2 separate regions of the Homo sapiens genome follow, and region 2 is linked to region 1. The links come from fine-mapping of genetic effects on gene expression. A gene starts in region 1. The other region holds a variant in brackets. All regions are shown on one strand. Distances are between the middles of the regions.

Region 1 (5,374 bases):
TGGTTCTCAAGGTTAACAGAGATGAATAAAAGTTGATACTGAAAATGGCATACAATTTGCTTTATTTTAAAATATTCATTCTTTGCGTGGGGGTAATTAGCACTGAACAGTGTTAGCCACATAACGGTCTCTCTTCAACTATGTATGTTTTTACTAATGCAAGAATGTTAACTGAAATAATTGATCAAAGGGTAGGGGGAGCTAATTTACTTTAAGCCAACCGAATTAACGAACTTCTTTTCGCTATAAGGAGTGGTCATGTGACTCTGCAATGTAAATGAATAAAGCATTTTGTACATAAATGCAAAATAGTACACAACTCCTTATCCTCCAAACTTCTGCAAGCACGTTTTACCGTCGGGAATTACACAGAGAAGGTGCTGCCAAATTAGCTGAGTTTGGGCCCAGGTTGGATTTGCAACACCTGAATATAGCATGTGAAGGGAAGTGACAAAGGCAAGAGCCAAGTGGCCCCATTCGCCTTCTTCCCCAGACCACGTTGAGTCTGCCCAGATGTTGTCCAACCTGAGCGGTCCCCCTGAGTCCAAAGCTTCGGGAGAAGGCGCGCAACGAGGACTTCCTGCCGCCTTCTCAGGCTCCCTAAACAGTTGGAGCCTCCCTAAATGGCCACGAGGTTCCCCGGCCTCGAGCCTGTGCCAAGGGGCGCGCTGGCGAAGGCAGCAGAAAGAGCCCAACACCTGCCTCTCGCAGGCCCAGCGAGAAACCTCGCACCGCCCGCGCAGACCTGGCCGGCTGGGTTTGGGGCTCTAATCTCATCCTCACACCTGCTTAGGGAGGCAGGCGAGGGTTCTCCAGGTGTCTGGGTCCCGGGAGGATGAAAGGAAGCTGTTAATAGGCGTGCGCTGGGAGCGCAGCAGCGGACGCGCCGTGGTCGCTGGGCGTGGGAAGACCGGGATGCCTGGGCCACGGCCTGAGGGTTTGAAGGGACAGGCCGGCTCGGAGATCTCCCTTTGCTTTTTCTCTTCCCCTCGCTGGGCGACTAGCCAGGGGCTGCAGTAGCTTTCCACTCAGCCCTGCGACTTTTACACATTTCTGCCCGGGCGCACTTAGCGCGCAGCGGCTCCTGGCGCAGTGAACACAGGGTCGAGTCCTCTTGGGACGCACCCCGGACGCCCAGGCCTTCCCCCCAAAGCTCTCGCCGTCCTGTGGGGCTCCGTCGCCGTCGGGGCATTGGGTTTCCTTAATCCAGGGCTTCCCCATCTTGGGCAGGAGGAGGAGTCAGAACCCCTCCCCTCCCTCTGTCCCCCTCCTCCTCCTCCTCCGCCCACGGCCAGCCTGATTTTTAAATCTAATCTCTTATTTAAAGTCAACAGAGGAGCAGGAACCCCGCGCTCCTGCCTACAAGATATTTTTAAATAATTCTCCAACCTCTACCGAGAGGGACAGCCTTAAGGAACCTCCCTGTTTTCCCCTCTTGAAGATTTAGGTAGCAGACGTGGGGCGGGGGGCAGCGGTTCCAGGGTCGCAGCTGAAGGCCGAGAGCTCTGCGCACTTGGGGAGGAGAATTTGGGCTGGGGGCGGTGCGGGGGAAGCGACTAATACAAGAGGAATTAATCCCAAATAGCCACAATTTAACAAAAGAGCGTCAACTTGAAAAGACTTGAATCAAACCGGGAGCCGAGCCCCCAGGAGGCTCCTAGGCACGAAGCCTCCCTTGCCTCCGTCGGGGGAGATGGGGGGCAGGTGATTTCCCAGCATGTGACCCTGAAGAGGGAGGGTCTTGGGCCATTACGGGATGCGCCCAGAGACTAGGCGCGTCCGCACGCACGCACCCCCGGAGGAGACAAGCCGAAAAGACACTCCGCACCCCTCCCCGGGTCCTTGGCTCGGGACTGCGCCCCCGGTACTTTGCCCACCTCCCTCCCCAGCTGGGCGGGGACCACTGTTCTCCCTCATTCCCAAGGAGCCTCCGACCTCCTTGGACCCTTGGCGGTGAAAGGCTCCCAGCCTTCGCCCCTCCTGCCTTTCCCATTTCTTTCCCCCGCCTCCCGCCGACGCCCCCAGATCTGTTGGGCTCGCCCTTCCTGAAAGTAGGCGAGGCCCAGAAGCTGAGGTTGGGGCGCAGAAGGAGGGGGGTGGGAAGAGGGAGGAGCGGAGCGCAGCGGCCGGGGGCGTGTCTTCCACTAGCCCAGCCCCTGGGTGCGCGCGGCGGTGGTGGCGGCGGCCGAGCCTCGCTTTGAGAGACAGGTATCGCTTAGGCGCCATGTTGTGAGCGGAAGTGGGGGAGCGCGCGGCGGTCGCTGTTCTGCTGGGAGCGGGCGCGGGAACCGGCGGGGGGGGCGGAGCCGTAGTCCCGGCGGCGGAAGGAGGAGAGGAAGAAAGGGGCGAGACCCGGTGCCCAGCGGAGGCGCGAGGCTCTCGCTCAGCGCGCGGGCGTCTCTGGCCAGGCGCGCGGCTTTCGGGCGGTCGGCGTCGGCGTCGAGCCCTCTCTGGGGCCGCCGCCGCTGCTGCTGCTGCTGCCGCTGCCGCTGCCGCTGCCGCCGCCGCCGCCGCCGCCGCCGCTGCCGTGGGGCTCGGGCGGCGACGGAGCGGGGCCGGCCGTGGGGCGGGCGGGGAGGGAGGAGGCGGTGAAGGCGGCGGGCCGGGGGGGAAGATGCCGCTGGCGCAGCTGGCGGACCCGTGGCAGAAGATGGCTGTGGAGAGCCCGTCCGACAGCGCTGAGGTGAGTGCAGCAGGGCGGCCGGGGCCGGCGCATCTCCTCCTCGCGCCCCCGCCGGCTCGCTTCGCTCCCCGGAGCTGGCCACTCGGCCCGTTCTGATCCCGCTCGCGTCTTTCCCCCGGGCTCAGGGTTTTGGTTTGGGTTGTTGGGGTGGGTCTATTGGCCGGTCTGTCTGTTCCTTCCATCCTCACCCTCACCTCCTTCCCTCGCTCGGGGGGCTGCCAGTGTGGTGGCGCGTGGGGTTTGGAGTGGGCGCTGGGGCTTTGCAAGAAGCCAATTTTAATCAACTTTGCGTGGGGGAAGCGGGAGGCGGAGCGGGGGCCGGCGGGGAGTTGGGAAGTTTGGCCCAGCCGGGTCGGGGGCTTTCCCGGACCTTGGCGACTTTGGGAGATGAGGGAGGGGTAGGGATCGGGTTCACCGGGGAGCAGGGACTCTCGAGTCCAGCCGAGGGAGGGGCTGCTGCGGGGAGACCGGCGCGCGGGGCACGGGCGGCGGCGACCTGTGGGGGTTTCGGGTAGGGGGTGCAGGGTTTTGCCTCCCCCTCGTCTGCCGCAGCGGTTTCTGCTGCTGCAAAGAAGAAAGCGGAAGCCTAAGGTCCCCTACCCCCTCCGTTTCTGAGGTCGCAGAGCTAGACCCCCGTCCCTGTGAGTTTAACTTGAGTTTCCTGTCCATGGAGGTGAGAGGGTGATATTCAAGGAGATCAGCGGCCGCCGTAAAAGGCTTTCTGGTTTTCCTCGCCCGGGATCTGGTGACCGTCCCTGAGTCACCCATCCTAGTGCCCAAAACCCAAACAATATACCCAAACAGGGCAAAACAGAATTTCCCCGGGCGCATCACTACACCGAGCTTTCCTGAACCGCCCCTATCCCAGAACAACTCGGGGTCTGCGAAAATAATCCAGACAAGACCCGTTCCAAGGTATCACCGCTCCTCTCCGGAGTGGAAAATCAATTCCTGATGGTGGCGCGTCTGTGATTCTTCCTTCTTGACTTTTTGCTGCCTTCTCTCCCCGCAGCGGACTTTAGGGGATTACAGGATGATAGGCTGCGTGTGTGTAATAGTTACTGAGTGAGTGACCCCATTTCTGGAAAGCATGACTGAAACGCGGGGGTGGAACGGGGCAGGCTCTGATGAGTGGTGTGCTTGGCGGCAGCCGCTGCCCTGCCGGCCTCCGCAGTGTGAGAAGTAGATAGGGTTACTGGTTACGTCAGTAAAACCGAGGCTCAGTTTAATCTTGAGATGCGGGACACTTGCATTCTCCGGTATAATGGAGAGGGCGGGGGATCAGTTCAAATCGCTTTTCACTTTTTCCCCCAGTCACCTCCGCTGCTGTATAACAATTTTGCTTGTTCTCCTTAACGCACGCAGAGTTGTAATAGTGCTTATGATTGGTGCTTAGTATTTTGCGACTTGGATCATACTTGTAAAACCTGAACTAAATGCTGCTCTTCAATGGAAAAGACATTGATATATGTTGAAAGAAAAGGAAAGAAAGAAAGGAAATCATGTTTTTAAGACTGGCAGAATCACAAGAACTTTATTTAAAATTGTTAACCAGACTAATACTATAAATATTTTATTAAAAAGCCAAATTTATGATGTTTAATAATCCTTTAGATGGGTAGTGTGAAAAACAGTATGCAAGAGCTCGTCATATTTTTCCCCAGAAAATTTTTTGCATTAAATAATATAGCTAAAAGGTTAATAAAATGTTCGCAAAGTACTGAACTTGTGGAAAGAAATTAAATTTGCTTTGAGCCTGACTTTTACATACAAACATTAACAATTGCAACTCAAGATCAGTCCACATTTCTGCTTGGCATGTATCAGTGTGATAGGAAAACAATATCGTTTAGAATTCCACCTTATCCTTTTTCTATCTGGAATGCATTTGGATAAGGAAGGACAAAACATATTTATTTAGCACCAACTGTATGCCAGGTACTGTGCTACATTACTATTTCATTTTATCCTTCCTGTGACCCAGCAGGGTAGGATTATGGTCCCCATTGTTATAGATTAGGAAACCAAATCTCAGAATTTAAAAGGTACAAAGATGATAAATAGTAAATGGCAGAGCCATAATTCAAAGCCAGGTGGATACAATTCATGTGCTTCGTTTTATATCAGGGTAGCTGTTCCAAATCTTTTGTGGAAAAATTCGGGGTATAAATAAGCCAGTAGTTAGAGGTCATCTATTTTCCAGAAACAAATAGAGTATTATAAGAGGTCTCATTTGGTAAAGCCTTGTTATTTCAGTTACTATCATGTTTTCCAGAACTTGACAGATAGGATTCCACAATTTGCTGTTTTCAAAGAATTTTCTTGCTATCCTGGCATAAAGTATGTCAAACAGAGCCAGTGTTGCCAAGATTTATTAAAATTAAATTCTAACAAATTGCCTTTAGATATTTAATTTCCTTTGCTTGTTCAGCTATTTCAAGTAAATTACTTCTGATACAATTTGGAAATATTGAAGACAGTGAGGGAAAGGTTGAAAAGTTCCACTCAGAGGTCTAATATTTTCACTATTATACCGTTTCCTCCCCCAGTAGGTTCCTATCAGATAATTGTATTTTACCAGAGTAACATAGTTTTTTTTAGAGTCATTTACTTGAGTGAATACATCAAAATATTTCTCTCCAGGTTAAAAGATTTCAGGATTGGTCTGTGTAGGAGTTTACATTTATGGTC
Region 2 (5,327 bases), 130 kb before region 1:
CAGTCACTGGGAATACCAGATCCCACACCCTGGGGTTGTATTTGAGTTGGGATATGGTGAGAGGAGCCAAGAGTCTGGGCTCCAGGCTCAAGAAAAAGACCACTTAGGCCTATACAGAGACGATTGCCATGGCAACACAAATAACAGAGGGTCCAGGAGACAAATGAGGCTGAGAGAATCTGAAGAGGAGGATAAGATGGTCTGATACACAATGCACTTTCATATGCCATTTACTAAAACCCAGAGAGGAGGGGGAACTACATTTCCAGCCTTAAAAGCTTAGCATTTCTGCCATGATTTCTTAGAAAATGCATGCTGGATTCTACCAGAAGGGACAAAGCATCTGGAGCAGATACTATTAGTTGCCTACCCTAAAATCCATCCTGCCCTTCTCTGTAATAAAACTTCCAACTCTTAGGGTAGCACATGGCCACCCAAAATTAAGGTTTAGTCAATGAGATATAAGCAGAGGTTGTACGGCAGCATCCAGAAAACCTCTTTAAAAGATTAGATGGATGATTTCCCCTTCTCCACTTTTAAAAAAAATTCTGGAATGTAGATGCATTCATTGGAACTCTAGCCATCACTTTGGACCGTGAGAAATAGGGCTGGTGGAATAATGAGCTAAAAAGAACATGAGTCCTCAATGACTTCGTGAAGCCACCATATCAGCCTTGTGATCTATGTTTTATTTACACAGAGAGAAAAATAATCTTCCATATTTTATGTTTTTGTTATTTTGATTTCTAACACATCCAGCTGAACCTAGTCATTCTAATAATATCTTTTAGCATCTTGCTTGGAATCAAAATCAAATTTTGCAGTGATTCCACTTTCTTTACATTTTTGAAAATGGCAATGACATTTACCTGTCTCCAGATTTCTGGGACATCCCTGCTTTCCATAATTCTTCAAAGATGTTTATTGATTTTTCAGCAATCTCTTTTACAATATTCATGTCAGGCTCGGCTTTCAATTAATTCAGATTAATTGTTTACCAACATCCAATCTAATTAACTAGTTCGCTCCCCTGATGCAATCTTTTCACTCATCCTACTTTACTCTCGCCTCTTACCATTGTTTTATTCTCCATGTCAATTATTACATAGACAATAGGGTGAATTAAAGATGGCTAGAAATTATTTGTCACTCTCCCCTCAAAAGGTGGAGTTTATTTCCCCTCCCCTTGAATCAGGGATGGCTCCGTGGCTGCTTACCAACAGAAGGCAGCAGAAATAGTACTGAGCCAATTCTTTGCCTACCCTGTAAGAGGACTGGGCAGCTTCCACTTTTGTTTCCTCTCTCTTCAAATAGTCACACTTAAGACACTCCCTTTTGGAAGCCATCTGCCATGTTAGTGAGCCATTGTGATGCCCAGCCCGGTCAAGCCCCTAGTTGATTACAGCCCAGTCAATATCACATGAAGCAGAAGAATTACTCAGCTGAGTCCAGTCAACCCTGAAAATCATGAGAAATAATAAATGGTTATTATTTTGAAGCTACTAAATTTGGGGGTAGTTTGTTACACAGAAATAGATAATTTCTGTGCAGTAATAATTTTATAAATGATATAGTAGTTGGCAATTGAAGCGGAACTTTTTTAATGACAAAATTCCCAGAAATGCTAGTTATTTCAGGGAGGAAAAAACTTTATTGAGGATGTGATATTTCATTATTTCATGCATTCATTCACTCACATTTATTATCTCTGCCAGGTGTCTGTTAAGTGCTGAATTACCACAAGGCACATTTCTTGATCTTAAGGAGCTCACAGAGTAGTAGAATTTGAACTAAATGGGAACAATTCAAATCATTTTACATATTTCTGGACTATTTTTTTGGAAGAGTCATATAGACTGAAAATTCCCCACACTGAATTTGACCAAAGAACACCTATTTCTGTCCATGTATTTCTGTGGAACAATTCTTGAAGGCCATTTCAGATAGAATCCACTGTAGTCAAGCCCTGAAATTCTGTGCCGCTGAGGGTTCAAAAGAGGTTAAAAACTGGCTTACAAGAAATGCTATTGCCCTTAACCCAGAGCAATAGTGCTAGCTTCTGAGGGTGTGGTCAAAGCAGACGTCTTAACATTTCTGAGGGATTCAGCTTTTTTTCTTCCAATAATGATCAGTTTATATAATAAGGGCACAAGCCTCCCCACCTCCCATCCTACACCTTCCCACCTCAGAATAGGCAGTCTGAAACTGTCTCAGTGAGGAATTTAGGCTACAGCTGGAGAGACTCAGTAAATCTTCACAGTTCTATAGAAACAGGGAGACAGGAAGGGAAAGAAACATTGCAGAAACTTCCAGGAGAATTATGTGAAGAAGTCCTGCCAGGACAATACAGCTGGGCAACATCTTGCCTTTCTTTTTTTCTATGGAAACTCTGCTCAAAACACACACACACACACACACACACACACACACACACACACACACATCATACACACAACAAAAACACACACTCACTAAGCAGAATTTGCCAGTTTTGCTAGCCAGGGTTAGTTTTGCAATCAGTGATAAACCTCAGCAGGACAAGCTTCTTCGCGGCTATATTGGAGTAACTCAGGGCAACCAAAACAGATGGCCAAAATACTCTTCAGAAAGCAAACACGGTTTCTGTTGCCAGGCCAAGTGGAACCCCCAGGAAGTAAGGTTTCAGAGAGGGAAATTTTGGAGGTTCTTCTTCAAGAATGGAAAATGCGAATTTCACTTATTGTTCGACTACACTTCTTAGGAAACTTCCATGTCAGAAGAGGGATACTAAGATGTAAAGAACCCAGTCCTTGCCTTCTATACGAGAAAAGGTTATTCTCTTTCTGTGCCTCCTTGGCCCTTACATAGTAACTTCTCCTAACACTTCCTCAGAAGCGGTAGAAGGGGTAGACAGAAGCTTTCACCCCACACTCCCCTCCTCCATGAGACATTTCATGAATACAGACAGAAGTCTGACATCCATTCATCTTTCCTCAGGTGGCAAAAATGTCAGTGAGCAGAAATGCCCCCCCTCTTCATCTGACTTTCTTGATCCAGCCGGCCTATGGAAGGAGCTCCTAGGCCTTGCATTCTTTTCCCCATTATGAGCACATCAGGGCGGGACTTCCTTGCCTTGCAAAAGAGACCTTCCGTTTTCTACTTTTCCCTCCCTTGACTTGGGCAATTAAAGCCCAAAATAGGAGACAGATTG[A/G]TGTGGGCCTTAGTTCTGATGGGAGTCCCTCTTTCTTGCTTCTTTTATCGCCATGAGAAGAACAGACCATGATTAAGCCAATAATTCAAGAAGGATGAGAGACATATGAAGAAACCCTCAACTCACCCTACAGTTGGAGCTACCCAGCTGAGTCTAGCTGAAATCAGTAAAGCTGCCCCCACCAACCTGCAGACATGTGGAAACTTAAAGCTTATTATCATTTGCCACTGAGATTTTTGTGGTTGGTTGCAACAATAGCTAGTTGATACAGAAACTGGTGATTACAGGTAATTAAAAGGCTGAACTCTGGATTCCAATTGCCTGGGTTCAATGGCAAACTCTCCAAACCAAAAGCTGATAAACTCAAACAAGTTACTCTCACTCTGTGTGCTCTGTTTGTATATCAATAAACTGGGATAAGACTGTTTTCTTTCCTCAGAGGATTGTTGTGAAAACTAGATTTCTCAATACACTCAAAGTATGTGAAGCAATACCTGGCACACAGTAAACATTCAATAAATGTTTTCCGGCATTATTTTATCTAACAAAGCTGATGCTGTATTTTTGCACATGAATACAAATTTTTGAATCAACTTCCAAACTTCCAAACTTCCACCACTCTGCAGGGATTTTTATTGGGATTGCATTAAATCTATAGATCAGAGGGAATTGGCATCTTAATATTGAGTCTTCCAATCCATAAATGTGCTATATCACTCCATTTATTTAGGTCTTTAGCTTTTCTCAGCAATGTTTTCTAATGTTCAGCATTAAAATCTTGCACATATTTTGTTACATTTATACCTAAATATTTCACGTTTTTGACAATATTGTAAATGATATTGTTTATTTCAATTTCCAATTTTTTATTGTTAGGACCTAATTAAACTAAAGAGCTTCTGCATGGCAAGGGAAACTATCAACAGAATAAACAGACAACCTACAGAATGGGAGAAAATTTTTGCAAATTATGCATCTGACAAAAGTCTAATATCCAGCATCTATAAGGAACTTAAACAAATTTACAAGAAAAAAGCACACAACCTCGTTAAAAAGCAGGCAAAGGACATAAACAGACACTTCTCAAAAGAAGACATACATGCAGCCGACAAACATGAAAAAAAAGCTCAACGTCACTGATCGTTAGAAAAATGCAAATCAGGCTGGGCACGGTGGCTCACGCCTGTAATCCCAGCACTTTGGGAGGCCGAGGCGGGCAGATCACGAAGTCAGGAGATCGAGACCACTGTGAAACCACGTCTCTACTAAAAAAATATATATATATACAAAAAATTAGCCGGACGCAGTGGTGGGCGCCTGTAGTCCCAGCTACTCTGGAGGCTGAGGCAGGAGAATGGCGTGAACCCGGGAGGCAGAGCTTGCAGTGAGCTGAGATCGCGCCACTGCACTCCAGCCAGGGTGACAGAGCGAGACTTCGTCTCAAAAAAAAAAAAAAAAAAGAAAAGAAAAATGCAAATCAAAATCACAATGAAATACCATCTCACACCAGTCAGAAAGACTATTATTAAAAAGTCAAAAGATAACAGATGCTGGTGAGGCTGCAGAGAAAAGGGATCACTTATACACTGCTGGTGGGAGTGTAAATTAGCTCAACCATTCTGGAAAGCAGTGTGGCAATTCCTCAAAGGGCTAAAAACAGAACTACCATTTGACCCAGCAACCCCATTACCAGGTGTATACCCAAAATAATATAAATTGTTCTACATAAAGACACATGCACACATATGTTCACTGTGGCACTATTCACAATAGCAAAGACATGGAATCAACCTAAATGCCCATCAATAATAGACTGGATAAAGAAAATATGGTACCTATACACCATGGAATACTATACAGTCATTAAAAAAGAATGAGATCATGTCTTCTGCGGGAACATGGATGGAGCTGGAGGCCATCATCCTTAGCAAACTAACACAGGAACAGAAAACCGAATACCACACGTTCTCACTTGTAAGTGGGAGCTAAATTGTGAGAACACATGGACACATAGAGGAGAAGAATGCACACTGGGGCCTACTTGGCGAAGAAGGGTAGAGGGTAAGAGGAGGGAGAGGAGCAGAAAAAATAATGAATGGCTACTAGGCTTAGTACCTGGTTGATGAAATATTCTGTG

What was found. PIP is the estimated chance that this variant, and not a neighbour inherited with it, causes the effect.
Region 2: its variant is fine-mapped to the expression of RPS6KA3 in whole blood (TOPMed, PIP above 0.99).

What each region holds. Positions count from the first base shown.
Region 1 is chrX:20,263,873-20,269,246 of GRCh38, reverse strand. RPS6KA3 (ribosomal protein S6 kinase A3) reads left to right here and starts at 2,338. Exons shown (of 22, transcript NM_004586.3): 1 at 2,338-2,683. The coding sequence starts at 2,615. RefSeq lists silencers at 1,562-1,856, 2,278-2,497, 2,618-2,877 and an enhancer at 4,058-4,107.
Region 2 is chrX:20,392,430-20,397,756 of GRCh38, reverse strand. No RefSeq gene overlaps it. Among named protein-coding and RNA genes, the nearest start is that of RPS6KA3, 130 kb to the right of the region's middle. The variant A/G (reference allele first, on the strand shown) is at 3,191.